3 linked regions of the Homo sapiens genome follow. The protein of the gene in region 3 purifies or fractionates together with the protein of the main gene of each other region. This does not show direct contact. Each region holds a gene or a part of one and is shown on either strand. Other genes may lie near its edges.

The links.
Region 1: the proteins of LRRC45 (region 3) and PAK6 purify together in Homo sapiens (affinity purification with mass spectrometry, with the first as the bait; one large-scale study listed by BioGRID). This does not show direct contact.
Region 2: the proteins of LRRC45 (region 3) and UPP1 purify together in Homo sapiens (affinity purification with mass spectrometry; one large-scale study listed by BioGRID and IntAct). This does not show direct contact.

The regions. Positions count from the first base shown.
Region 1 is NC_000015.10:40,235,180-40,244,660, reverse strand, and holds the start of PAK6 (serine/threonine-protein kinase PAK 6), read right to left. Parts: upstream 5,599-9,481; 5' UTR 4,859-5,598; intron 4,799-4,858; exon of another isoform or gene 4,566-4,798; intron 4,063-4,565; 5' UTR 3,980-4,062; intron 1-3,979. UniProt on the Homo sapiens protein: Serine/threonine protein kinase that plays a role in the regulation of gene transcription. The kinase activity is induced by various effectors including AR or MAP2K6/MAPKK6.
Region 2 is NC_000007.14:48,085,628-48,095,125, reverse strand, and holds the start of UPP1 (uridine phosphorylase 1), read right to left. Parts: upstream 5,862-9,498; 5' UTR 5,708-5,861; intron 4,939-5,707; 5' UTR 4,762-4,938; intron 364-4,761; 5' UTR 343-363; coding exon 299-342; intron 1-298. UniProt on the Homo sapiens protein: Catalyzes the reversible phosphorylytic cleavage of uridine to uracil and ribose-1-phosphate which can then be utilized as carbon and energy sources or in the rescue of pyrimidine bases for nucleotide synthesis.
Region 3 is NC_000017.11:82,022,001-82,031,290, reverse strand, and holds LRRC45 (leucine-rich repeat-containing protein 45), read right to left. Parts: upstream 7,987-9,290; 5' UTR 7,648-7,986; coding exon 7,428-7,647; intron 7,014-7,427; coding exon 6,952-7,013; intron 6,599-6,951; coding exon 6,528-6,598; intron 6,292-6,527; coding exon 6,113-6,291; intron 5,913-6,112; coding exon 5,784-5,912; intron 4,393-5,783; coding exon 4,280-4,392; intron 3,906-4,279; coding exon 3,847-3,905; intron 3,618-3,846; coding exon 3,540-3,617; intron 3,281-3,539; coding exon 3,145-3,280; intron 3,058-3,144; coding exon 2,980-3,057; intron 2,895-2,979; coding exon 2,783-2,894; intron 2,679-2,782; coding exon 2,608-2,678; intron 2,273-2,607; coding exon of another isoform or gene 2,246-2,272; exon of another isoform or gene 2,199-2,245; coding exon 2,106-2,198; intron 1,749-2,105; coding exon 1,656-1,748; intron 1,227-1,655; coding exon 1,053-1,226; intron 973-1,052; coding exon 825-972; intron 683-824; coding exon 486-682; 3' UTR 140-485; downstream 1-139. Other genes in the region: CENPX (centromere protein X), read left to right, coding at 8,430-8,465. UniProt on the Homo sapiens protein: Component of the proteinaceous fiber-like linker between two centrioles, required for centrosome cohesion.

The sequences.
Region 1 (9,481 bases), on a different chromosome or scaffold from region 3:
TTTGGGAGGCTGAGGTCGGCGGATCACCTGAGGTCAGGAGTTCGAGACTAGCCTGGCCAACATAGTGAAACCCCATCTCTACTAAAAATACAAAAATCAGCCGGGCATGGTGGTGGGTGCTTGTAATCCCACCTACTTGGGAGGCTGAGGCAGGAGAATCGCTTGAACCAGGGAGGCGGAGGTTGCAGAGAGCCAAGATCGTGCCACTGCACTCCAGCCTGGGCAACAAGAGCGAAACTCTGTCTCAAAAAAAAAAATAAAAAGAAAAAAAGAGAAAACAAAAGTCTCTGAGATGGAACCTCACGATTACTGGCCTTTTTTTTTTTTTTTTGAGACAGAGTCTTGCTCTGTGGCCAGGCTGGAGTGCAGTGGCACGATCCCAGCTCACTACAACCTCCGCCTCCTGGGTTCAAGCGATTCCCCTGCCTCAGCCTCCCGGGTAGCTGGGACTACAGGCACGCGCCACCACGTCCAGCTAATTTTTTGTATTTTTTAGTAGAGACGGGGTTCACCATGTTGGCCAGGATGGTCTGGATCTCTTGATCTTGTGATCTGCCTACCTCAGCCTCCCAAAGTGCTGGGATTACAGGCGTGAGCCACTGCACCTTGCCCACGATTACTAGGCATTTCTAAGCTACTTGCCAGAGTGATCCAGGAGCCTGCCGTGGCCTTGTCTGGCCCCTCTGCCTGCCACATCACCAAGTGTATGCTTTAGATGGGGCTCAGCAGAACACAGTTCCTCATGCAGTTAGGACCAGCATGTGAAAAAAGCTTCCAGTCCCCAAAAGGAGTAGGGCCAGGGCCACAGCCCGGCTCTCGATCCCTTCACTAGGGGCAGCCCACTTCAAGTCCTCAAGACCTCCAAGTCTAGACCCCAGAAAGAGGAGTCTCAAGTTATTCCTTAGAAAGCCTCAGTGGACAAACAATATGCTATTTGGGAAAAAAATAGACCTGGCATTATTGTTTCTTCCCAGCTTTCCTGGGCATTCTGAGAGCTTTTGTTTCTCCTCAGAGGAGGGTTCTTTCAAAGTCACCTCCTCCGTGAAGCCTTTCCTGATTCCCCCGAACAAGGTATGGTCTCTCCTGGCACTTTGTTCCTCTGACACCAGTTATCATCACGGTGATAATAGTTATCTCTTGCTGAACATGTACGTATGTGCCAGTCATGCCATTCAGAGCATTCACTTATTATCTTATTTAATCCTCTCAACAACCCTAACTCATAGGTACTATAATTATCTCTGTTGGACAGGAGAGGAAATTGAGACCCAGAGACATGAAGTAACTTGCCCGAGTCACCAGGAAGAGGCAGCACCGGGCCTGAGGCTCATGCTGCTGACTTCATGTTAACCAACCACCATCCTGCCTCTTCCCGCCCTGGTCTATCTCCCCGAGCCTTCACCTCCTCCTGCAACTGCAGATAGAAGCTGCTTCTTCCTTTGTTTGTCATTCTCAACTTATCTTTTTTGTCCATCTTTATAAAGTTCTATGTTAAGAACCGTTGCCCAGTATTGGTGTAAATTTATAAATTATCTGGGCTGGATGGGTCATGGCTGCCAACTTCAGCGATGAGTTGGACCCAGAGTTGGCAAAAGGACGAAGCCACCTGGGGGCTGATGGTGGCTTTGTGGCTCCGCTTGTTTCTGGCGCGGTTGGCCCCACGCTCAGCTCAGCTTTCCTTTCCACTGCTCTGCTGCAGGGCTATGAGCATCCCCAGGGCAAGAGCTCTGTCCTGCTTTGTCCACCCCCTCTTCCTGCCACCAGTGCTTGCACCTAGTAGTCAGGCCATGGCTGTCATCTGCTTGGCAGCCTGTGCGCCAGAACAAGGTGCTGCCTGGACCCCACACCCTCCCAGGAAGAGACACGGTCCCCTTTATCTCACATCTCACTCTTCTCGCTTTAGCCCTTCCTGGCCCCTAGGGCTGAGCTCTGGTGGGGTGGAGGGCACCTCCTCAGAAGGGGACAACTTCCCAGGCCCAGGCAGACTGCTCGCCCTGGGCAGGAGGGCCAGCCTTGGCTTCAGCAAGTTCAGAACTCATTCTGCCCTCAGAAGCTTCCATTTGCAATGCTCCTCCCCAACCTGCTGGCTAGTCCACCTCTTTCTACCAAGGAGGCTCCCAGAAATAAGCTCTCTCCTTGAGGCCCGGTAGGTGCAGGCGGCCAGATGCCTCCTGATGAGCTTTACTGGTGTCCTTCCTGCTGCTCAGGTCTCAGGCACTGCTTCCGCAGCCTGGGCCTTCCTGCTCAGGGCGACGAGCGCATCTTACGGGAAGGACTTTCTGCTTCAGTCCACAGGACAGCCTCCCATGAGTCCTTCCTGCCTTCTGCACCCAGGACACTGTGTGCGGTGGGCATCTCTGGGCCATTTGGGTGAGGAATTCAATCTTTCAGTGTCTTAGCCTCTTCCCTGCCCAGTCACCTACGCAGAGGGCCTCTCCCACAGAAGCGGGCTGGCATAAGAAGGCCAGCTGTCTGGAGTCCTCCCTGAGCCCTCAGGACCCCAGGCAGCCTTTTCCTTTCCTGCTCAGCCTGCCCTGGCCCCTACTCTCTGCTCCCTCCTGGCCCAACCTGCTGCCCGCTGCTGGCCTGCTGTCTACCTAGTGCTCGACAGCCTCCGCCCCTCTGACCCCAACTGGGCAGCAGCCCCTGCTCAGCTCTGCATGCATGGAAGACTCCTAGGCACAGAGTCACCTTTTGTGAGGCAGCATGAGATACCCCCACAGCTGGGTCATTCTCCTCATCCAGGAGCCAGGTGTGGGAATTCACTGGCATGAGAGACACTTATGGGTTCCTCCTGACTCTGAGCACATGTGCTCCTCCAGGGCAGGGGACTTTTTGGTCATCCTTAGGAGTTGTGCACAGAGCGGGCTTTCCTTGGCTGGAGACCCCACCCACTGCACCCTCCCTGTGTCTGGCAAGTCCGGGAGGGCCCAGAGCACTCACAAAGCATCAGTTTGTCCTCGGGGCACTGGAGAGGCCGTGCAGTCCCCACACTCCCCCTCTCAGGTGCACAGAGCTTCCATCCAAATCAGCTGCTCCCAGAAGGGCTTGCCTCTGGTGCCGACCCTTCCCTGACCAGGCGCTCTGTCACTAGGGCTCCCAGGTGCCACCTCCAAGCCTGGGCCAGGACAACCGCCAGGGAAGCCTGCCTGCAGAGGGGACTCCTTGCTTGCCCCAAAGGCCTCAACCCCAGCTAGATGAGCTCCCGTGGGGCTGAGTCCCAGGCCCACCAGGCCTGGGGGCCACACGGCTCCTAAGCTCATCCTCTCCTCCTGCAGCCCAGTTCCCACCAGAACCAGCCTCAGGAAGACCCCAGGCAGAACGGCACAAACCTCTTGGTGTACAATGCCAGGGAAAGGATAACTGGAGACCACAAGACGTTAGCCTTGCTTCCCGGTGGGGCCCAGTGCTTTATAAACCCGAGCTCACTGGGCCCGATGTCCCCAAAGCTGACCAGGTCATCCACCCTGCAGCAGGGGTGGGGAGACCAAGGCCTGTGAGGAGTGACCGTGCTTGGCCAGGCAGCTCCCTGAACCTGCCCTGATGCTGAGTTTCAGAGTCAGAATCTGTGCCAGGTCAAACCCAGCCAAAGGGTGTGACTTGGAGCCTGGGACCCAGCAGTGCTCCCTAAATATTTGTGGAATGAATACACAAGGGAAATGTCCCAGAGGTGGTAAAGTGAGAGGGGCCTTGGATAGGGGTGTCCCGGTGGCACTGGCTTGGCCCAGCTGGGGCAGGAAGAGTAGAAACAAGCACCTCTCCCTCTAGCTAGGGAGCCAGAGACCAGCTGGGATTGGACTGTTTCACAATCAATCTGGAAAGAAGGTGGCAGGCCGGGTGGGGAGTGGAGCCCCTTGACCCAGGAACCCACAGCTGTGGAGTTAGCCTCCCTGTCCCAGGTGGGAGGCAGCCTGGACACCTTGGCACCCCCGTCCCTAGCCCAGGAATCCGGAGCACGCAGCGGCAGTGGGGACCTTACCGTGGCTGCTCCTTCTGGGCAGCGGGGTCCTGCGTTCTCCACTGCAGGCTGGTGCTTGTCTCTAGCCCAGGAAGCGGCACTCCCTTCAGGCAAAATAGAAAAAAAAAAAAAAAAAAAAAGGAAAAGAAAACCTCAGTGCTTTTCTCACCCAGCCTCTTCTCTTGAAGGCTCCTGGTTGGTATTGTCCTGCCACTGTGGGCACACAGCCTCCCTCCCTCTGGCAGCTTACTCACTGGTGCCCGCAAAGCTGCCAGCTGTGTGGGGGAGAAGGGACCTCCCCCCTCCTCCTGACACACACTGGGGCATGCCCTGTGGGGACCAGGGGCTTGAGGGTGGCACCCGCTGGGTCCTGATCATGGGGAAGCCGTACCCTGGCCAGCACCCTTCTCACTGAATGTGTCCCTGTGAGCTCAGCAGAGACGCACATGGGTGCTGACTGGCCCTGCATAAGAGAGTGACATGGTTCTTGGTAGGAAGCTGTTTCCTTGGTACCCAGGCCTGCCAGAATGAAGGGGCAGCTGATGGGCTGTCCAGCCCCCCAGTGATGGGCTCTCACCCTGGCCAGCCCCTCCGGACGGCTTCCTACCTGGGCATCTTGCTGTGTCTCTGTCCTGTGCACCCAGACAGGGCCTGGGCCTGCCGGGGCTGGCAGCTGCTCCTCACCCTGCTCAGGCCGTGTGTCTGGCGTCCCCTCTCCCTGACGCCCATCTCAGGGCCTGCGCCCACCCAGCATCAGTTAGGATAAACTCCTGTCAAGCCCCCAGCCAGCTCTCTGCTGGACCCAGCTGCTGTCCCCAGCAGGGGGACGGCACACACACTGGCTTACACACTCTCGCACTCACACACACGTGGGTCCACACCCAACACAGAGCCACCTACCTGCCCAGGCCAGCCTAAGCCAATCCAGCCTCGCTCTCCAAATGCCACTCCGACCCCAGAAGCCACTCCTTTACCGAAACATCCCCGTGGGAGATGAGTTCAGAGCCAGCCCGGGAGGACTCCAGTCAGCTCGGACAAGACTGCCCTTCTGTCCCAACACCTCCAGAGGACACACACAGGCAGCCTGACCACCATATCTGCTATTGCACTCTGCCTGCTGCCACAGCCCCCCGGGCACTTCTGGCCCCCACAGCGTCTTCCATATCTTTAGGGGGTGGCAGCAGACTCACAGCAAGTCCCATCTTCCTGGAGCCCAAGGTAGGGAGGGGAGAGCTAGAAGGGGCGGGACTCAGGTGCAGCTCCAAGTTTCCAGCTCCCAAAATAATCAGATGCAAAGGAGAAGCAAGAACAGCTCGAGGCGGGCGGTGACTCAGTGCTAGTGGGCCGGCTTAGTCACCTGGATGGCTGCTGGCGGCTCCTGGCACATCAGGACGGGAGCAGCGCCCTCCCCCACCTGCCTGGACCGTGGCTGTCTCCAGAGTGTGGCCGCCGAGCCCCGCGCCCAGGGCTGCCTGGCAGGCGAGGCCGCTCCACCCCGCTCCCGCCCATCAGGGCCCAGCGGCCCCGGCTGCGGCGCGCCCCTCCTCCACCGCGCGCCCCGGCTCACTTTGGGATTTCTCCATTAAATCCTCAGGCATCGACCTGCTCGTTTGGGGCGCCGAGCTGCTCCAACGTTGCTTGGCAATTTTGATATCGTCGGGGGTTGCCATGGGGAGGAAGGTGATGTCATTGACACAAAAAACCCACTGAATTTACAAATCAGCTGGGGCTGGAGCTATTTATAAAAACACGTTTTTATCTGCCTTTCTTTGCTGAAGGGGAGGAGGAGGAAGGGCTGCCTGCCGGGCTCAGGGTGAGCCTCCCTGCTGTCCTTCCTACCCTTGCCCTAGAGAAGCCAGACCTCCTTGGCTCACCCCCACCCCCACCCCCCAGAACTTGGAGCTGCGCATTCAGATCTGGCAGGTGCTGGTCTCAGCTGGTTTTGCTTCGAAGGCTGAGAGTGGCACATGGGATGTAAGGCAGGGTGGGTGCTGGCTTCCTGGGCTGGCAGGGACCAGAAACCAGTTACTCAACCGGGTCCCTTTATTTCATTGCCCCTGGTCAGAAACAGAGGCATTTGCTGGTGAGGCAGCTTGAGCTCCTTGATGTGCCCCCCTGCCAGCTCCCCGGAGCGCCAGGTGGAGCCCAGCCTTCCACAGTGCCCTCCCCATCCCTAGCCTCAGTGTCTCCTCCACTGGCTTCTTTTCTTCTCCTAGTGTCCAATCGTGGGCTGCCCAAGCTCCAGGCTTGGTCCCCTGCTCATCTCTCCCCACACTCAGCCACCACTCCATCAAAACACCTTTTTTCTGTGGCTTTGACCATCACCTGGGCAAATGCTTGCCCGAAAACCCATTTTGTGCCTGCCCCACTTCAGGCGCCACCTCTGATGGCCCAGCTCCCACTGCCAGGACCCACTAGCTATTGACAGCCAGAGGGAAGCCTGGGAGTTCTTGCCTCTTCCCGTCCCCCAGTCCCTTATATCCAAGGTGGCACTTGGCTCTACATTTTATTTTTGAAAACTTTCTAACTTTCTTCTGTAGCGAAGCCATGTGGTGTTTGGTTAAAAGTCCAGGCTGTGAGTCTTCAGTCTTCCGCATCTCAGCTCCACTGTTCATCAGTTGAGTGACCTTTGGCATGTTATTGAACCAATTGAACTTCAATTTCCTCATCCATAAAATGGGGATGATTTCACCTGCCTCACAGGGCTGTGGAAATTAAAGGAATAAAGTTTCTGGCACAGAGACTGCTCATCTTGATCCCAATAAACATTAGTTTTTATCCACCCCTCCACTGATGGCAGATTAATCTTCCCAAATCATGACCCTAGGCACCTTCTGTGCAAAGGTCTCAAGCTGCATGCGTAGACATTTTGATTGAACGCAGTGTTAGATGTCATGGCATTAAACATAAGAATTTCAATTTGTGGCCAGGCACAGTGGCTCACGCCTGTAATCCCAGCACTTTGAGAGGCTGAGGCGGGTGGACCATGAGGTCAAGAGATTGAGACCAGCCTGGCCAACATGGTGAAACCTCATTCCACTAAAAATACAAAAATTAGCTGGGCGTGGTGGCACATGCCTGTAATCCCAGCTACTTGGGAGGCTGAGGCAGGAGAATTGCTTGAACCCGGGAGGCGGAGGTTGCAGTGAGCCAAGATTGTGCCACTGCACTTCAGCCTGCGCGACAGAGCGAGACTCTGTCTCAAAAGAAAAAAAAAGTTCAATTTGTGGTCAATATGAAACATTTTCCCTTTAACTAGGTTATCAGTTCCTTTTGGAGAGGAACTCTGTATTTTTCTTCTTTTTGTATCTCAATGTAATTTTGTGTGTAAACTTATAAATAATCCACTTCTGCTCTGTCTCACTAAGGAATGATCCAGGAAATGCAAACTAAAACAAAAGGGATATACCACTCCCTGTCATTATACAGTGAAAAAAAAATGGCAGGTGGGAGAGTGAATTGGTACAGTCTTCTTGGAGGGCAATTTTACAGTCTTGACCAAAATTTCAAAATGTGTATGTACTTGATCCAGCAAATGCACTTCTAGGAATCCAAGTTAAGAAATAGTTGCACATCGGCCTGAAGATATTTGTATAAGAATATTCATGGTAGCACTGTTTGTAACTGCAAAGAATTTGAAGCCACCAAAATGTGCATCAATTGGGCAGATTAATTGGGTGACAGATCTATACAGGATGGTACATCCCCATGCAATGAAGTATCTGCAGCCTTAAAATGAATGAGTTTTGTCAGTCGGTATGTATGTACCAGCTATGTGTGTACCGGTATGCATGTACATACGTATGTATGAGGAAGGATGACCACGATAGTTGAGCAAAAAGACCAGGTTTATCAATGTTAACTTGAAAATGAGATGGCATAATCTCATATAAGTTTTTTTATTTAAAGATATTTCTATATCTGTATGTTTAAACCGCAAACTGTCAATGTGGTTATCCTTGGAAATAGGAGTGGTGGTGAGAGGGGTCTTTCACTTTGGACTTTTTACACTCTTGCATTGTTTCAGTGAACATGTACTGTTGTATTTAAACAATACAAAAGTAAAAATAAAGGAATGTATGTTTTTAAAACTAATAATAGGCCAGACGCAGTGGCACACGCCTGTAATCCCAGCACTTTGGGAGGCCGAGGTGGGTGGATCACCTGACGTCAGGAGTTCGAGACCAGCCTGGCCAACATGGCGAAACCCCGTCTCTACTAAGAATACAAAAATTAGCTGGGTGTGGTGGTGGGCACCTGTAATCTCAGCTACTCAGGAGGCTGAGGCGGAGAATTGCTCGAACCCGGGAGGTGGAGATTGCAGTGAGCAGACTGTGCCATTGCATTCCAGCCTGGGCAACAGAGCGAGACTCAGTCTCAAAACAAACAAACAAACAAACAAACAAACCCTAATAATAGAAAACCAAGAGCTATGAAGAGTACCTAAAACTTGTATATTTGAACATTTTCCTCTGCAAAGTCCACTTTAAGGCAATGTGGGGATATGGAAAACACTTTTTCTTCCTTCATGTCTTTCAAATTTTCAGAAATGTTGTTAGAGGGAGGGGCAACATGAAGATGTGAAGGCACTAAGGCAGGAGATAGAGTTTATTACGTTAAATTCAAAACACTATCATCTTATTCAGATAATAATTACAATGACTCTCTTTAAGAAATGTAACATTTCTAAGTTTCTGCCAGTTTATGAGAAGCAGGCGGAAATTCCTGAAGAAACATCAACAATTTCATAAATCAAGAAAAATCATGTTTTCCAGATTTCTGCTATAGTAGCTAGCAGAGATAATAGCCATTTCATGAAAGGAACTGAGAACTAAACAAACCAGCTCTCCTGAATCTGCATCAGTCAGGTTCTCTGTTAGCCTGGAGAATCAAGTCCAGGACAGAAGCTATGGCAGTCCTGGGGTCTCTAAGCAACAGGACTGACTGCAGTCCCACAGATCACCCCTGCCTGGATGAGAGATGCTCCCACCATGCTGTCCACCTAGTGCATCCTTGCAGGGAAGGAGTCTGATTGGCTGGCTCAGGTCATATGCCTGTCTCTCAGGGAGGGTATCCTGGAGAGAGTGCTTCTGTTATCACACGATATAGGGAGGAAAGTTAGGGTGCTGTTACTAAACCAAAGGGGAATGGGTGCTGGAGACCAAAGGGGACCAGCCAATGATTGCCACAGCATCTTTGCCTCTTTTTCTAATTATTTTCAATTCCTGAGTGTGATAATCAGCCACTGTTGATATTCGATTCCTGTCTTGTGAAACTGATGGCCTGTGCAAACTGAGACCAGTTCCTCTATTCTATCATGTTTCTTGACTTCCTGATTTGATGAGAGGATCTGCAAATTTAGAACCATTTTTTCCACAGGCTGTAGAAAGGGGGGCTCCACCGGCCTGCAAAGGTATGGCTGCTGCTGCAGTGGGCAGGCCAGCAGATGCCTGTGTTTTTGGGCCAGTGGTCGGCCCTGGTGCTTAGCACATGGCAGGTGCTCATGTAAACTTTGTTGAAGGA
Region 2 (9,498 bases), on a different chromosome or scaffold from region 3:
AAATTGGCACATAGAGGAAAAACCTACTAGACAGAGATTTGAGCAGGGACTTGTCTGGTTTTCTGAAACAACATGTCCTAAGAATCAAGAGCTGAGGCCCCAGCACCCGACCCCGGAGGTCTTTAACCATCTAATGTACGAACCTCCTGAGTCATTAATCCCTCCAGGCCTCAGTCTCTTTCACAAGCATCAAATGTGTTAATATATGTCAAGTCCTTAGAAAAATGTGTGGCACAACATATGCTCTATAAACAACCCAACCCCACCCAACCCAACCTGGAATGAAATGGAGCCTTACTTGTGACTTTCAGCTTTCTCTGCATTGGCTCCCGTGGCCGCCATTCCGCCAACTGAGGCAGGACCCTAAGGAAAAAAAATCACAGAATGGAGTGAATCCACTCAGTAGAAACCAAGATCGTGCAGAGCCCCACTAATATGTAGAAAGTCAGTGCAATGAAGTGGAATTCCTTACACACCTGATGTAAGTGTGTGAATTGTGTGAGAAATAGAAACAGAGAGAGAGGAGAGTGTGTATGTGTGTTTATAGCATTGCTAGTTTCAGAGAGGAGGTGCTGAAAATGTGCCAAAAGCCTAAGTGGACAGGCACCTCACACCTCCAGAGAACCTGTCCCCTTTATGCCTGTAAACCCAGCACTTTGGGAGGCCAAGGTGGGTGGAGATCATGAGTTCAAGACAAGCCTGTCCAATACAGTGAAACACCATCTCTACTAAAAATACAAAAATTAGCCAGGTGTGGTGGCAGGCGCCTGTAATCCCAGCTACTCTCAGGAGGCTGAGGGAGGACAATCGCTTGAACCTGGGAGGCAGAGGTTGCAGAGCGACACTCCGTCTCAAAAAACAAAACAAAACAAAACAAAAACCTGTCCCTTATTCCCAATTTCCCAGCTCAGCAAGTCAAGACTCACTGACCCAACACACCACACCTCTCTGCCTCCCTTTTTTTAATAGAGACAGTCTCGCTCTGTCACCCAGGCTGGAGTGCAGTGGTGCCATCTCGGCTCACTGCAACCTCCGCCTCCCAGGTTCAGGCAATTCTTCTGCCTCAGCCTCCCGAGTAGCTGAGACTACAGACACACGCCACCATGTTCAGCTAATTTTTGTATTTTTAGTAGAGACAGGGTTTCACCATGTTGGGCAGGCTGTTCTCGAACTGCTGACCCCAGGTGATCCACCAGCCTCGGCCTCCCAAAGTGCTGGGATTACAGGTGTGAGCCACTGCGCCTGGCCTCTGCCTCACTTTTCTAGAATCTCAGATGCTCTTCTCCCCAGGAAGAATTGGGTCAAAGATGGGTAAAAGTTATCAGCTCCAGGGGGAGCAGCGGGGACAGGGGACCACCATAGGAGGGAGAGGGACTGAGGCTGACCTGAGTCAGCCCACGGCCCCGTCTCCACTGCAAAGTCCCATGAAGGAAAAACGTGGCGTACCTGAAGTTATTCTACTAGGGCTCAGTAGTCAGAAACCCCCAAGACCACTTCTCTGTGTGGAGAAGGGCAGGGTTTTGCCAGAGCTCTTTGAAGGAGGGTGAGACTCACGTTTTGAACTCAGTTAATAAAGAAACAAATCCCCAAATGCCCTGTAATGGCCAGGCCCCCAACTCCCTGGAAAGCCTTGCAGAGTGGGCAGGATTCATGCTGAGAGGAAGAGAGTGAAGCACTGGGTCTACAGGATGATCCAAGGCTCATAAAGACATCAGTAGGAGTCTGTGAAGTGAAGCTGCTTTCCTGAGGTCAAGCCAGTTGTTTCCACCACACGGTTCTCACCTTCGTAACTCAGCAGTCTCTTGTCACCAAGCTAAAACCCAAAAGGTCCCTTTTTGGAGAATGGGATTTATTATTACCATAATATAGTGATCATTTCCAGCAAATTTTGAATGCCAGGGAAAACTACAGTTGTTAGGTGTGGAGAAAAATGTTCCCTCCAATTGCTGCCTTAAATCTCTCCACCAGGCTTTCATTCTCCCTTAGCATTTACACAACACTTCTTTGGAAATCCCAGCCTACTGCAGTCCAGCTAAGGAGAGCTAAGAAGGGGAATAAGGTGTGGTGTTGTTGATTTTTTTTTTAATTCAACACTTTATTCTTCATTTTTTTAGAAACAGGGGGCCATGCACAGTGGCCCACGCCCCTAATCTCAGCACTTTGGGAGGCCGAGGAGGCCAGATCACTTGAGGTCAGGAGTTCAAGACCAGCCTGGCCAACATGGTGAAACTCCATCTCTACTAAAAATGCAAAAAAGTAGCTGGGTGTGGTGGCGCATGCCTGGAATCCCAGCTACTCGGGAGGCTGAGGCAGGAGAATCGCTGGAACCCAGGAGATGAAGGTTGTAGTGAGTCGAGATCATGCCACTGCACTCCAGCCTGGGTGAAAGAGCAAGACTCTGTCTCAAAAAAAAAAAAAAAAGAAACAAACAGGGTCTCACTCTGTTACCCAGGCTGGAGTGGAGTGGTGCAATCACAGCTCACTGCCGCCTCAAATTACTGGGCTCACGTGATCCTCCCACCTCAGCCTCCAAGTAGCTGGAATTACAGGCATGAGTCACAACACCAGTGTGAAGGGAATGAGTTTTAAAAGAGGTATCACACCTTGGCCCCCGGTTCACCAGGGGCCAAATGAAGGACAGTGTAGGGATGAAGCTTCATGAATAGGCAGAGCTACCTCTCCCTACACATGTGGAAGGAGGAGAGAGAAGCCAGGGCAGTGCTTCTTATCAAAAGGCACTACAGGAGGATCCCGGGGCGTAGGGGTCTGGTCATGATTTCAGGCCTTCTTCAGGATCCATTAAGCAGACCTACCGACTGAGGGAAGAAGTAGGGTTTAGGGTCAGGCAGAGTCCTGATCCCCAGGGCCAGTTTCTGTGGGGCAGGAACATTCCCCCGTAAGAGTGGCTCCTCTGAAGAATGTGCCCTCTTACAACCTCCCCTAAAACTCTGCCCCCTCCAGGCTGCTATTTTTGTCTTTAGGGGTAGGGAGCTAATGGGAGGGAGCAGCCCCCCAGTGAACCAGGCAGGGGAAGAGCTAAGAGGTGAGCTCCCTTGGGCCAGCAGCTGAGAACATCCCACTGAATCAGAGACTGCTGAGTGGCCCCCGGAAAGCTCTCCAGAGAGAATCCAACCCCGTTTGTAGAAAAGGAAACCAAGCCAAAGACAGAACTTCCCGTCTGGCCTTGTAGAGTAAGGATGTTTCTCTCTAGGTTTGGTTGCTTTTCTTTACTCTGAACCAGAGAAACCAAGGCCACATCAGCAGAGAAATCAGTTCCCTTGTCCAGTCACTGCTTTCCGCTGGCTCCTTCCTAGTGGGCTCCAGGACCAGCCTCACTCTCTCTTTCCCTTTGCAATCTTAGTACCTGCAGGATCCCCCCTCCTGGGTGTGAGTGTCCCAAGAACTAACTTCTCTCCACTTTTCAGCCCTGCACTCAGGGAGGGTCTATTTAACCACACCCACGTAGGCAGAGAAAGTTGCAGATGTCTGCAGTGCTCCAGTGGAAAAGACCCTGGTGTTGAAGATGTCAGACTGCACTGATTTTAGAAAACCTTTCTCCTAACATTGTACCACAATGTTCTCCAACTTCCGTAAGGAAATGAAATTCAGTTTCTCAACAAGTCTTCTCTCACCTCTCTAGAAAGCCATGCTCTTCGCTCCCCTCCCCACATAACAGGAGAGTTTTGCTGGTTTTACCTGGGCTGCAAATTCTACCTCCCAGGGAAATCCTAAACCTGGCTTAGGATTTGGCTCCCCAAGGAAGAGTCTTTTCGGTGATCACCTGGGGCTCTCTACCTATTACCAGCCAGATCCATCTTACTTAAAAAAAAAAAAAAACTGAAGATGTTTTTGATTTTTTTTTTTAGTTTTAACCCGTTAAACTCAAATCAGATTGGTAAGTTACTTGCATAAATAACTTAGCTTGTAAACATTTAAAATACTTTTTTGAATGAACATATTTCAAAAGCAAATGTGTGTGAGAGAGAGAGGAGAAGGAAGAAGAATGTTTGTTGTTTATCTTTAGGGAAGAGGAAAACCTAGAAGTTTCATTTTCTGTTATATATTTGATTTTTGGTTTTTGGGTTTTTTTGTTTGTTTGTTTTTACAATAAGTTTGCGTTAATTTTAAGATCAGTAAAGTCAACAAAATTCCACTTTGACAAAAAGCCCATGTAAAGAAACACTAATTTATCCTTCTTAAATGAAACATGAATGCCCACCAGTGCTGAAAGTATTGGAACCAAGAATATAATTTGTGCTCGATACACCTGTGCTGAATTAAAACGGTCTGCGGTGATGAGGTTTAATGCAGAGGACTAGAAGGTCAGGGTAGCCTCTGAAAAAAGAAATAATGTAAGAGCAGCTGAGAAATGGGGAAAGCTTGGGCCAAAATGCAGATGGGCAAACAAACTGAAAGGCGGGAGAGACAAAGGCCTGCCCTGGGAATGGCTCAGCAGCGCTTGTAGAAATCCAGAGTAAGACATTCTTTCTATTCAAGGAAGTCACAAAGTTTTTTAAAGACCCGCGGTTACAGCCAATGAATGGAACCAATGGTCTTTTTAACCAGAAGACCCCAGGAAGGCAGAAAATGAGCCAAAGAAAGGCCAGGCAGGGGACAGTGGGGAAAGGAAACAGGGATGGAGAAGCAGAGAGGGAAGTGCAGAGACAGGTCACCCAGGCGCCTGGAAACTGCCTCTATGGCCTTCACGGGAAACGGCCTCTTTCTACTCCGGATCCCAGACTGTGTTTCTTTGAAACTGACCGTCAGAGGAGAGCGGCTGGAGGCGGACAGACGTCTGCAGTGGGAGGCGCTCCAGGCGTTCCAGGCAGTGTCCTGCCGGCGAGTCACCCGCGACCGCGAGTCACCTCACCAAGCCCTGAATTGGGACAGGAGACGAGACGTGTCGACGAGCTGCGGAGTTCCTCGCTTCTCTGGGCCCTGCCAGGTCCAAGAACAGGTTGCCATATAAAAGAATCGTGAAGGGACCCCCTTCCCCATGCAAATTATGTCATATAACGCATATGCCTGTGAAGTTTCTCTGCGGAGCTGCCAGATAACTCGATGACAATATTTTATGCGGTAACATTTTGTTAAATGTTGACTCGATGGCCACTTGACGCCATCTGAACTCTGAAAGCTCGCGTAACAATCATCCTCCAAATGAAATTTTACCCCCTTCTCCCTTTAAAAGGCGGTGGGGACAAAACATCACTTCGTCACTTAAGTCACCATCTCCTTCCTCTTATCTGGGGCTCCCAGCATAGTTCTAGGGGTTCCCGCACTCCCCGCCCGGGTTTGGGCTGCGAGAAGCGCCCGCCTGCGCCCTGCGGGACCTGACCCTGCCGGCTCTGGCTTCACCCTCGCTGCGCCTCGGCCCGGTGGGCTCCCCGCCCAGAGCCCCGCGCGCTCCGTCGCCGGGACGTGGGAGAGGTAGGCACGGGGTGGACCCGAGGAAGCACATCCCGCCCGCGCGCTTCCCCCACGCCCACCTCGCTCCGCACACACCAGCCCCAGAACCTCCCGGCCGCGCGCCCGCCTCCCCGCGCAGCCGCGCCGGGCCGCTCTCTGCTCCTCTGCAGCTCACAGCCAAGGTGCACCAGAGCCTCCGTCACCGCCCCTACAGGTAAATGGGCACGTGGCCAAGGCAGGGGACGGGCTAGACCCCTGGGAAGAGAGAACGGCGGGAGCCGGGCCGCGGGCGACTCACCACTCGGCCTGCGCAGAGAGCCGCTACACCCGCGGCGCCATCCTCGCACTGCGACACCGGCGACAAACGCAATGCTCCAGGGCCGGACGAAGGGACGGCTCTCGGGAGGCTCGCAGACGGCGGGGCGCGGGTCTGTGCGCCGGAGCACTCGAATGAGGGAACCACCTGCGAGGTGAATCTCATATGGAGTCTGCGAGCGGCCCCGCCCTGCCCGGGGGTTACCGCTAGGCTCGGGCCCCGCCTGCCCTGGGCCGGCGAACTCAGCTGACCGCATCCTGGGCCATCCCGCAGACAAGCCCCGCCCGCCCCCACCTTCCTCTGCCCCTCTGGCCCCGCCTCCCCCGCCTTCCTCCTCTCCACCCTCCCGCGAAGGTCCCGGGAGGCTCAGCCCGCAATTGCTTCTCGCCTCTGCAGAGCAGCTGGGCAATTGTAAAGAACCAGCAGCCAGTTCTGTTACTCATTAAACAGCCCCTACTACAGAGGAAATCTTCTTACCCACGTGGTCCTAACCTGGGGCGGAGGAAACCGGGCTAGAAGCGGCTCTAGGACTAACCCAAGGTCACGCCGCCAGGCAGGATCCCCGGTCTGTCTGTCTGGCGGTGGCCCCGCGGCTGGGGCCAGCGGAGAGAAATGACAGCGTGGAACCAGCCCTGGCCCGGTGGTCGGGAATGTGGAGCTGGCACTGTCACTGTGTGTACCCTGGATCTCTCTGGACGGCCTCGGCTTCCCCCCTGGGGAGTTTCTCTGGGACCTTCCTGATCCTGGGAGTTCCCGCTTGCTGGGGCAAAGCCAGGAGCTCGCCCGAGGAGGGGAAGTGACTCATTCACTTCGAGTCGCAGCTAAGTGGCCGAACTGCCTCAAACCGGCGCTGCACTCTGACCCCCAGGGGCCGGACCTGCCTGCCCCCGGCCGGTGCCCACTCTCCGTCTCAGGCGTCTTTCCTGGTCCTCTCCCTGCTTCCCGAACGCGCACTCTGGTGAGAGCACAGAGCCTGGGAAAGAAGACGACCTAGAGGCCCGGGCAGCCCAGCACCTCTGTTACTTGCTTCCTAAAGGGAACTCCAGTTCCTGAGAAAACATGGGGTTGGGCCGGGAGTGGTGGCTCACGCCTGTAATCCCAGCACTTTGGAAGGCCGAGGCGGATGGATCACCTGAGGTCAGGAGTTCGAGACCAGCCTGCCCAACATGGTGAAACCCCGTCACTACTAAAAATACAAAAAATTAGCTGGACGTGGTGTCGCGTGCCTGTAATCCCAGGTACTAGGCAGGCCGAGGCAGGAGAATTGCTTGAACCCAGCGAAGGATGCAGTGAGCCGAGATCGCGCCATTGCACTCCATACTGGGTGACAAGAGTGAAACACACAAACAAATCAAGGAAGGAATTAAGGGTTTTATTGAAAATGAAAGTACGGCCAGGCGCAGTGGCTCACACCTGTAATCCCAGCACTTTGGGAGGCCGAGGCGGGTGGATTACAAAGTCAGGAGTTCAAGACCAGCCTAACCAAGATGGTGAAACCCCGTCTCTACTAAAAGTAAAAAAAAAAAAAAAACAAAAAAAAAAACCTAGCCGGTCACAGTGGCAGGTGCCTGTAATTCCAGCTACTTGGGAGGCTGAGGCAGGAGAACCACTTGAACCTGGGTGGCAGAGGTTGCAGTGAGCTGAGATCATGCCACTGCATTCCAGCCTTGGTGACACAGTGAGACGCCATCTCAAAAAAAAAAGGTAAATGAAAGTACACTCCACAGTGTGGGAGCGGGCCTGAGCGTAGGGGCTCAAAGGCCCCATTCCAGAATTTTGGGGAGTTTCAATGTCCTCCGCTTGGGGCACACACTATGTAAATGAAAGGGATGATGCAAAGTTACAAAGTCATTTACTTGGCCTACGCAGAGGCTATTTCCTGTCATAGCTAAAGTGTGAATCGGCCTTATGTTCCCTGCCTCCAGACCCTATTTTGCTGCCTCAGACTGAAGACTGAAACTGGCCTGGTTAGGAAGTTGCTATTCTCTCTCTCTGAAGGTAGATTAACAACTTAGTTTTAGTTTTGTTACCGGAAAAGGGTCCCAATCCAGACCCCAAGAGAATGTTCTTGGATCTTGTGCAAGAAAGAATTCGGGGCCAGGGTGAGTCCACAGAGTAAAGTGAAAGAAGCAAGCTTATTGAGAAAGTAAAGGAATAAAAGAATGGCAATTCCATGGGCAGGGCAGCCTCTAGGGCTGCTGGTTGGCTATTTTTATGGTTATTTCTTGATCATATACTAAATAAGGGTGGATTATTCATGAGTTTTCTAGGAATTCTTCCTTTTAGAACATATAGGGTAACTTCTAAATGTTGCCATGGTATTTATAAACTGTCATGGTGCTGGTAGGAGTGTCGTTTAGCATGAGAATGCATTGTAATTAGCGAATAATGAGCAATGAGGAAGACCAGAGGTAGTTTTCCTCACCTTGCTGGTTTTTGGCAGGTTTTGGCCAGTTTTGGCTGGCTTCTTTACTGCATCCTGTTTCATCAGCAAGGTCTTTGTAACCTGTATCTTGTGATACCACCTGCCAACCTTCTATTTCATCCTGTGACTAAGGATGCCTAACCTCCTGGGAATGCACTCCAGCAGATCTCAGCCTCATTTTACCCAGCTCCTATTCAAGATGAAGAGTCTCTGAGTCGACTCCTGCTGACATATTTCCTGACTCTACAACCCTTAGGATTAAGGGTTCCCTTGTAAAAGGGAAGGGGGAATAACCAAATAACTCACCCCTTTCTTGGAAAACTCAGGAATAATCCACCCCTTGCTTAGCACATATTCAAGAGTAATCATAAAAAATACCCACCAGCAGCCCTTGGGGATGCTCTGCCTATGGAGTAGCCACTCTTTTATTCCCTTCCTTTCTTAATAAACTTCCTTTTACTGTTCTCTGTGGACTCACCCCAAATTCTTTCTTGTAGGAGATCCAAGAACTTTCTCTAGGGCTCAGGATCAGGACGCCTTTCCAGTAAGTTTGGTGACCTGAAACGTTAGCATGGGTGACTTTATTTTTATTTTTAGTCTTGTCTTTTGGGGCCTAGTGCAAGAGCTTAGTCTAAAACAATGGCCTCCTATAATTTGTGTTTAACATTTGTCAGGTTAAAACCTTGTCAGTGTGACAAACTGGAAACAAAATTGTGTCGGGCCACTACTAAACCACACCCAAAATACCTGTGTCATCAATGTTTGCAAGCAGAGAGCAAATGCAGCCCACCAATGGCCACCTAGAGCAGCAGCTGCTAGAGGCAGGAAAGTCTGGAAGAGACCCAGGGCTTGCAGGCTCAGCCAGGATCCCCCTGCTCCTCAACAAGGTCTTTGGGCTCTTTCAGAGATGCAGTTGGCCCTGAGCTCTGAGAGGTGGGGAGGGAAGGGGCTGAGAGGCTGAAGGCCAGGCCACACCAGATAGTGACACACCACTGCCCTTCAGGTTTCCCAAATCTAAGTAACTTCAAACTCTTTGAAATTCTCCCAAAGCTAATGTGTCTACCTAAAAGAAAGATGAGACAAAATTAACATAGAGAGTTTATTTGTGCCCAGGTTGAGGACTGTAGCCCAGGACACACTTCTAAGTTGCCATGGGGAGTGCTCCAAGAACAAAAAGGAGGCTCAAGTTTTTAAAGAAAAAAGAACAACTCAGGAGATGGGGCGATTGCAGAGTTGTCAGGAATCCTCATTGGTTTACAGAAATAACATTGGTTAGTGATTGCCCACACAGTGTTGAACTATAGGGTGGATGGCATCTTATGGCTAATTGGCCTCAGTTATTCTACAG
Region 3 (9,290 bases):
CGTCCCTTCAAGGCAGCGGCGAGGAGGGGCGAACAGCCGCACCCCGGCAGGCCCTCCCTGCAGGGCTGGGGGCAGAGGGCCGCGCGTTTGGAGAGGCACGGACGGTCGCGCGTTTGGAGGGAGAGGCGGGGCCAGAATGTATCACAAAGTGCAAACGCGCTGTATTTCCAAACCCCGCCGCGCGCAGGCGGCCGCAGCGTTCACGGTGACATCGCAAAAGGCGAGGGGGAGACGCGCCCGCGGGACCCCTTCCCGGTGTGCTCCCACGTGGCGTCGACCGGGAAGAAGGGGCCGGTAGGGAGCCCTTCCCAGGCGCCTCCCACGGGGTTCCCCCGCAGCCGCGACACCACCAACAGTCGCCGCAACCGCCGCGTGGAACAGACGACCCGGGTCTCAAAGAGGCGGCGCGGGCGGGACGCAGCCCCTGGTCCATCTCGGGCGCCGCCTGATGCACTCCTACTGCGCCCGGGTCCTCCCGGCCTGTCTCACTTTGGGGGGCTCAGGGTCCTCACGGGGGACGCCTGCACGTAAGCCAGGACGGCGTTCTGCAGGAAGCTCGCCCTCTGGGCCTCCTCGTCCCGGATGCGGGCGATCTCCGCCTCCCGGAGCCGCAGCTTCTCCCGGAGAGACGCGTTCTCGCTCTCCCTGTCCAGCAGCGCCTCTCGGTGGTCGCTCGCCATCACTGCAGGGCAAGGAGCGCAGTGAGCGGACGCAGCCCCAGCGCACCGTGGCACGGCCTCAGCACGGGAGACCTGGCCAGCCCCGCTCTCTGGCTGGCCTCACGTCCCACCAGTGGGCGGCGGGAGGACAAGGGTCTGGCTCACCTTTCAGCTGGCGCTCCAGGGCCGCCGCCTTCTCCCTCAGCGCCTCCTGAGCCGCCAGCTCCGCCTGCAGCCGGCCGTTCTGCTCCTGCAGCTCCACGCGCACCCTGCTCACCTCGGCCACCCTTTCCTGGTCCTTGAGGCTCAGCTCCTGCCAGGCACGAAGGCTGGGGAGTGAGGCGAGGGTTGGGGGCTAGCACGCCCGGGGCCCCCCACCGGAGCCCCGCCTACCTGCTGCAGCTCTTCCAGGCGCCGCCGCAGGCCCTCAACTTGCAGGCCCAGCTGGCTGACCCGGGTCTGGGCCTCGGCCACCACCTGCTTCTGCTGTAGGCAAGCGCCCTGCGCCTCGTCCCGTGCCTGCGCCAGCAGTCTCAGCTTGTCCTCCAGGTGAGCCAGGCGCTGTTGCTGTGAGCACAGGGGCCGCCACGAAGCATGAGGGGCTCAGCCTGAGCTCAGCTGAGGGAATGTCTGCACGGGCACGACCCCACCTCTCTGCAGGACTGGCTGCTCTAGTTACTATGACTCTGAACCCGCTCCCCTGGCAGCCACCTCCTCCAGATGCCCTCTGGGCTCTCCTCCTCCCTCTTCGGTCACACCACCCCTCCCATCCATCCATGCGTGTAGTCACAGGCTGCAGAGATGGGCCAAACCTCTCCACCGTCTCAGGCCCTGATCCAAGGCTGAAGCGGACCCACCAGTGTCCAGGGTGTGCTCATCTGACCTCAACACCACACTCCCGCCTCCCCACTCAGACCGAAGCTCTGGAGTCTGCATGCGGGCCGCAATGCCGGGCAGCCTGGCTCCCCCGGAGGGTGGCGGACATGTGTGGCTCACCTCCTCCAGGCGGGCCTGGCTCTTGGCCTTGATCAGCTCCTCCTCAGCCTGGCCACGCTCGCTGAGTGCCGCTGCTTTCACTCGGCTCAGCTCCTGCACAGATGGCCACCTGCCAGCCCGTTCTCCTGTCCCTGGCCCAGGGCCCTTCTCTCTCTGGCCCATCCAGCCAACCCCAGCCAGGGGGGCTCCTCTCTGCCAGCCTCCTGAGGGCCACGCAGCTGCTCTGCCACCTAGCTCGCTGGGCAAGGTTCCTAAGGCCAAGGAAGTCCGAATGCCACCTAAGTCCCTTTAGCTTCTTGGGCACACTGGTGGGTGGGTCCCCAAGGTGGGGCCTATGAGCCTCTGGGAACAGGAAGAGGTCTCTGGTCCTGAGGCGGCGAACACCAGGGGCCCCTGCCTTGTTCAGCCCAGGACTAAGGCAGAGCTTGGCCCTGCCTGGTGGGCACTCACCTCCTCCAGGGACAGCCGCGCCGCCTCCAGCCTCTGCACCCGCTCCTGCATGGCCTTCTCACTCTCCTCCAGGTGACGGGTCATATGCTCCACCTGCTCAGGGGCAGGGATTGTGGGGCCAGAGTGGAGAGCGGGCCTCCCTACCTTCTCCTCACGGACTCCCCACCCTGAAAGGCAGGTGTCTCTTGAGAACCTTGTTCATTCTGAGAAAGCACTGCCTCAGATGGCCTAGCAGGAAACTACCGCAGCATGCACACCCTGAACGAGTGGGCCTTGGTGTCTCTTCAACGGCAGCCTGTACTACGGCTCAGACATTGCCGGGGTCCCCCCGCCGCCCCCAATAGGAGGTTCTGGGTCTGACATCCGCTCAGGCTGGCAAAATACGGCCACCCAGTGACCCAAGGTTGGCAAGGGAAGCTCCCACCAGGTGTGTGCTTTGGGGACACCTGCGTGACACCAAGACCAGAGACTGAGGCGCATTAGAGGCCAACGAAGAGGGCACCTCCTTGATGCGCAGGCTTTCGGAGTCCTCCAGGCTCTGTCTGCATCTTCTCTTCTCCATGTCCAGGCGCTCTGGAAGCCCAGGGTGGGCAGAGTATGCGTGAGCATCCCCTGGGGGCCCCCGTCCCCCGGTGCCCATCCCCAGGCCCCTCCACAGCAGGCCTGCCCGTGCCCACCCTCGGCCTGGATGGCCCGCATCTTCAGCTCAGCTGACATGCTGGTCATCTCCTGCCTGGTCTGGAACAGCTGCTCCTGCTGACACCTGAACTTCCGCTCCAACTCGTCTACCTGAAAGCCGGCACCAGGGAGGGAAGCTGCAGCCCAGCCCTGCCGCGCCCACCCTGGGCTCCCTGGCTCCATCCACCACAGCTACCTGGTTTTGCAGAAGCAGGTTCTTTTCATTGGCAGCAGACAAGTCTCTGAGGAGTTTAGACTCCCGCTCTGCAGCTTCCTGGGAGGGGAACGGGGTATGGGTAGTGAGGGTCACGAAGCCGCCACGCACCCCTTGGCCCACCCCTCTCAAGCCCTGCCCACCCACCTGCTGCTCCAGCTTGAGCTCCTTGGCCTGCCTCTGTGACAGGCTCAGCTGCTCCTGCTCCGCTGTGGCCAGGAGCTCCCCCAGGTCCTGGGCCTTCTGCTCCGACAGAGCCAGGGCGGCCTCTGTCATCTGCAGCCTGCAGAAAGGAGGGGCAGCACCCCCGCCCCGGTTGGAGTTTCACTTGCCTTATAAAGGCCTCGCTGCTTTCACTGTTGCTGGGCACCTAGTCAACCCCAGCCAGCACCCGCCTCCTCCAGGAAGGCTTCTGGGTTACTGCCCCAGCCTCACCATTTCCCACCTCTGCTTTGCAAACAGGACTTGCACACAGGTTCACACCACCTTTCTCTGCCCTGTGGGCACGTCTCTGAAGTATCCTGAGGCCACCCCCCACTTACTTGGCCTTGAGAGCGTTGATGATGGAGTGCCTCTCATTCAGGGCTTCCTGAAGCTGCCCTACACGGGCTGCCGACGCCCTGTGGGCAGAGAGGAGGGTGCAGAGAGTAACCCAAACCCCAGAGCGCTCCCATACCCCTCTGGCCTCGGTAGCTGCTGCTGTTCCTTAAGCATCTATGGTCGCCTGGGCACTGAGCCTCCAGCGACCTCCTCGTGGCCTCACTCGTGGGCTCAGGTTGGTCCCATCTGAGTCTGAGCCAGGACCTGATCCCTGAAGCCTCACCCTGCCCCTGCCCTGGGCCCGCTCACCTGCTGCTCTTGGCCATCTCTTCTCGCTGCTTATCAATAGTCTCCATCAAGTCGAGGAACTGGGGACAGAGACAGCCGCAGCCCTGTCAGGGCACCTGCAGCCTGTCCACCTGACCTTCTCAGGGGGAAGGAGAGCCAGCGCCCACCAATGTGGCAAGGCAGCGGAGGGTTCCACCCACGGTGCCCTGTCTCCTTCACAGGAAGGGTGGCCCCTGCAGAGCGAGGCCTCAGGGCTCAGACGCCAGCTCCCCAAGGAAGTCCACCTGCAGATCAGACCAGGAGGCCGCCCCTCCTTCCTGGTACCAGCCACTCAGAGAGGCTCCAGGGCCCCGAGGAAGGGAAGATGGGCAGACCACGGGGCTGAGGGAGGAAGGACGTGGCCAGGCCCTCCAGCCATAAGCAGCTCCAAGGTCAGTGAAGGCGCCATCCTCACCTGCTTGGACTTCTCCTCCCGGAGGTGCTGGACCTCCTTGCTGAGGACGTGAGTGCGGGCTTGGTTCTCCTGGAAGGTGGTGAGCCGGTCCTGGCTGTGGCCCATGGCTTGCTCTGCAGAAGGAGCTGTGTCAGCTGGGCACAGGGGCTCATGCCTGGAATCCCAGCACTTTGGGAGGTCGAGGTGGGTGGATCACCTGAGGTCAGGGGTTCGAGACCAGCCTGGCCAACATGGTGAAACCCCATCTGTACTAAAAATACAAAAAAGTAGCTGGGCATGGTAGCGCACACCTGTAATCCCAGGTACTCGGGAGGCTGAGGCAGGAAAATCGCTTGAACCGGGAGGTGGAGGTTGCAGTGAGCCGAGATTGCGCCACTGCACTCCAGCCTGGGTGACTGAGTGAAACTCAGTCACACACACACACACACACACACACACACACACACAAAGGAGCTGTGTCACCCCGGGGCTGCTTAGCCTCAGGAGTAGCTGGTGGCCACCAGCCCTGCACCCAGCGGCTGGCTGCTTGGGAATCTATGCCGTGTGGGGCAGCGTCTCACCCGGCAAGTCAGGGGTGCCCCCTCAGTGCATGGGGGTGGAAGTGCTTTGTGGGGTTCGGGCTGTGAGCAAGAGCCGCCTGGTGTTGGGGAGCGCGTGCACATGTGGGGCAGAGGTGGTGGGAGCTGCTCCACCGCAAAAGGCAAGGGCCATCCTGGGGCATCTGGCCACCATCCCAAAGGTCAAGGGGCACTGCACAATGCTGAGGCAAATGCTGTGCCCAGCTCAGTTCTGGAAAGATCTGGGTAGCATGTGGCGAGGGGGCAGAGGTCAGGAGGGATGACAACAACCAGGGCAGTGCCGAGGCGAAGCCAGGGACGGCGCAGCTGGAGTCAGAGGCCAGGCAGAACCAGCAGGAGGGATGAGCCCTCAGCACAGGGGCTGGAAGAGGCTGCCGCTGTGCGCGGATTAGGGAGTACGGGGGGCCTGGCAAAGTCCCCAGCTGAGTCTGGGGCACTGGGGCCTGAGGCTGAGACATCAGCTGCAAGGATTCGGGGTCGCTGGTGGGAGGGAATGTGTGGAGGCCAGCACAAGCCAGGGGGCCCCACCTCACCTGACTCACATGCAGGGCCACAGACTCAGGGTGACCAGGGAGCCTTCCTGGCCAAGGCCAAGACCTGGGCCACCCGAAGCATCAGCAAAGCCACCAAGGCCAGGACTGTGAGCCACACGGCCTCAGCTTCCCCAGCTGTGAAACGGGCACCCTCCACTGCACAGGTCCTAAGAACTCAGCAAGTACACAGGGCGCCTCGGACAGTGCCCATGTGTGGCGAACGCCATTCAAGTGCCAAACAGGTGCCCCACGACCCCTCCGCTCCTTCCTGCTTCCCCTGGGCTCTCAGGCTGCTCTCCTCATCAGTTCCCGTCCTGAGCCCGGCACCCCGCCCTCGGTGGACAGGCCTCTGTCAAAGGCTCACGCGTCACTCCACACAGCCCTGCACCGTACCCACGGCTCTGAGGACGTCTCCAGGGATGTTGTTCCCAGCCAGGTCCAGTCTCCACAGGGTTCTGTTGCTGGGGAGACAGTTCATGAGGGCCCGGCCCCCCAGGAGGCCAACGTTATTCCAGCGCAGGTCTGGAAGGAAACCTGTAGTCACCAGACAGAATGCACCTGGCAGAGGGGGAGCTGGCCTGGCCGGGGTGCTTCCCTAGGGGGCACTGCCTTGCAGTCATCAACAGAGCAGGAGCACAGGCCAGTCCCCTAGCCCCTCACTTCCCAGAGCAGAGGCAGCCTCAGAGGGATGAGGGAGCCTGAGGGCGCCTGGGAGGCCTCACCCAGCTGCTGGAGGGTGGTGTTGCCCTTCAGGGCTAGGGCCAGCTCCTCCGCGCCCTTGTGACTGATCTGGTTGTTGCGGAGGTCCAGCCGCTGCAGGGCGCCGTTGGCCGCCAGGCCCCCGCAGAAGGTGGCGAAGGCATCGTCCCACGTGCCCAGGCTGTTCCACTCCAGCGTGAGGCTGCAGGAGGGGCAGAAGCCAGTGTTCACCTAGGGGACTGCCTAGCCCGTGGGGTCCAGGGCTTGGGGACGGGTGTGGGCTTGGGGTCTGATGGGCCGGAGCCTCTGCCTACCCCTGCCAACGTATGTGAAACATGGGCACCTGGCAATGGGGAACTCTTGGGCTGCAGAAGCATGTGCTCGGGGCCAATCCTCAACCACACAGAGACAGGGCCTGGGGTCGGGACCACCACCCACCTCTGAATGGACTTGTTCTGTTGGAGGAGTTTTCCCAGAGCCTCGGCCCCTGCAGCCCGAAGGTTGTTGCCCTAGGAGAGAAACAGGCCGGTAGTCACTCGCGTGCCCTGACTGGCTCTGAATTCCCGCCCATGCCCCAAGGGCCTTGGTCAGCCAGGGGACAAGCCTGGGGTGCACCCTGCAGCCTTCCTCAGCTCCTGGGCTCCCTGTCTTCAGGGGGCTTCCAAGGGCCGGCTTGTTTGCCAATGTGAACTCTTGCTCTGGAGATGGTCACACACAGGAGGCCATCAGAGAGCGGCCTGGGGACTCACAGACAGCTTCCAGCCACCTGCCCAGACCCCAGGCCCCCGAGACCTGGCATCTTCCACCTCTCCTCTTGCCCTTGGGTGGCACACTCGGACACTCAAGAGTGCAGGTATCTCACCTTTAAGTCCAGAAAGCGCAGCACGGTGTTGGCACACAGGCCTCGGAGCAGCAGTGTGGCCCCTGTGTAAGGGGGGCCGGCGGTCACTCTCTGCCCCTGCTGACCCCAAGGCCCTCCCCGTGGGCCCCTTTTCAGGGCAGCTCCCTAGACCCAGGAAGGGACAACTGTCCCGATGGTCTGGGTTGGCGCTGGCCAAGAGTCTCGCTGCGAAGTCATGTTTGAAACACCTGCAGCCCCTGCCAGGCACCAAGCCGGCTCTGCACGCGGGGAACCAGGTAAGACCGCGAATGTTAAGGCCTCTCCCCCGTCATACAGAGGAACTGCCCTCTACTCCCAGGTGCAGGAAGGGGCGCCCCTGCTCGCTTTAACTACGGCACAGAAATTGGAGAGCCTGGAGAGGAAGCGACCTCGGGCTGCCGAGGCAATGGTGTGGGCAGCTAAGGAGCAGAGGGATCCACCCCGCCGCGCCTGCCCACCTTCCTCGCTGAGCATGCAGTCACTCAGGACCAGCTCCGTGCACAGCGTCTCCCTCGGCAGCAGCTTGCCCAGGGCCCTGCAGGTCTCCACCGTCAGGCTTTGCGTGGCCAGGTCCAGCCGGCCCCTGGGAAGCTGGTGCAGCTGCTGCAGGACAGCCTCCTGGGGCTCGGCCCCACTCTCCCTGCACAGGCGGCTGTAGGAGCGCCGGAACTCCTCCATGACCCGCGGGGCCGGCAGGGCCTCCTCCGCATGCTCCCGCAGCTGCTGAAAGGGAGCCGCGCGGTGCGGAGCAGTCCCAGCGCCGGGTACAGGAGACGGGGCCTCCGCCGACCCGGGCGGAGAGCAATCCGAGTGGGCTCCGCGGGCGGGAGGTCCTGGGAGCGCGGGGCTGGGCGGTAGTCAAGGTCCGCTTTGGGCTGGGGCCCCGCAGTGCTTGGGGACCACCCGTGCAGGAAGCAGGCAGGTGCGTCGCGCGCCCCCACCCAGCCCTGCCCCGCCTGCAGCCCCGACCCCCGCCCTCGCGACAGCCGCGTCGGGGCCTCAGTATCCAGGAAGAACAAGGCGCGCCGGGAGAGGCCGCGGGAACTACAACTCCTAGCAGGCTCTGCGCAGGCAGCGCTTGGTGCGGGCCAATGAGAACAAAGGAACTGGCGCGCCTTTCGGGCCGCAAGCTGAGAGGGGGCAGCGCGCTCCAGGTTCATTGGCTAGGGGCATGAGGGTGGGGCCCCGGGAGGGCATGCTCCGGGCTCATTGGCTGAGGGTCGTGAGGGTGGTGCCCCGGGAGGGCGCGTTCCAAGTTCATTGGCTGCGGGACGTGAGGGAGGGGCTGCTGGAGGGCGCGCTCCGGGCTCATTGGCTGAGACGTGGGGGCGGGGCTCCGAGAGCAGGCGCTTCGGACTCATTGGCTAGGGGCGCGGGGCGGGGCTCCGGGGGCGCGCTCCGGTCTCATTGGCTGGAGGCGCGGGGCGGGGTTCCGGTGGGCGCGCGTTGAGGCTGCGGTCATGGAGGGAGCAGGAGCTGGATCCGGCTTCCGGAAGGTGAGGGCCGGAGGGCAGGGGCTAGGCAGGCGCGGACGCTCCGTCCCGACCTCACGCGTGACACTGTGAGGGCCAGACGCCAGCCCCCGCGCCGCCCCCTGTGCCTTTGAGGTTGGGCCCGTTCTCAGACTCCATCTCCGGCCGGGCCGCGCGCCCCGCGCCCTCGTGGGCTGGTGTCTCGCAGCTGGTAGGAGGGGGCGTGGAGCAGCCGGGGCTGCGGGAAGGTGGAGAGGGTCTGCAGAAACAGGCAGGGGTGGGCGCCGTCACGGCGGAGTCCAAGCCGGCGAAGAGAGAGGAGGAGCTGGGCCGCCGCCCTGCGCCCTGAGCCTGGGGTCTTTTGTTAAGGGGAGATGAGGCCCCAGGACGGGGACAGTGAGATCGTCCAGCCCGAGGAGCCGGCAGGACCTACCCCAGCCGCCAGGCACAGTGGTTTCCCTTTTGTTTGCTCCCCGGTGGGCGCCAGCACTGGGCTAGGAACGCGTGGTTTCTTCGGTGCTCCACGTTACACACACTTGACAGGGATTAACCCCACCTGCCAGTGGAGAAACTGAGGCACGGGGGCGTTAAGTGACTCAGCAGGGCTAGGGTCAGACCTAGGCCGTCTGAGCCAGGATCCGCCCAGGCTGGAGGGCGTGCCCTGCTCTTCCCTGTTCCTGGAAGTGGAGCTCTCTGGGGGTGCCATGTGCAGAGGACCCCATCGGTGCAGGCAGAGTGGTTTCTGAACCTTTCTACTGCTCTACCTGAAGGTTGGGGCACCGAGCTTCCTCGATGTCAGCAGGGCCTCGTGGGCCTCTGTGGCCTGGGAAGGGAGGGTCTCAGGCCCTT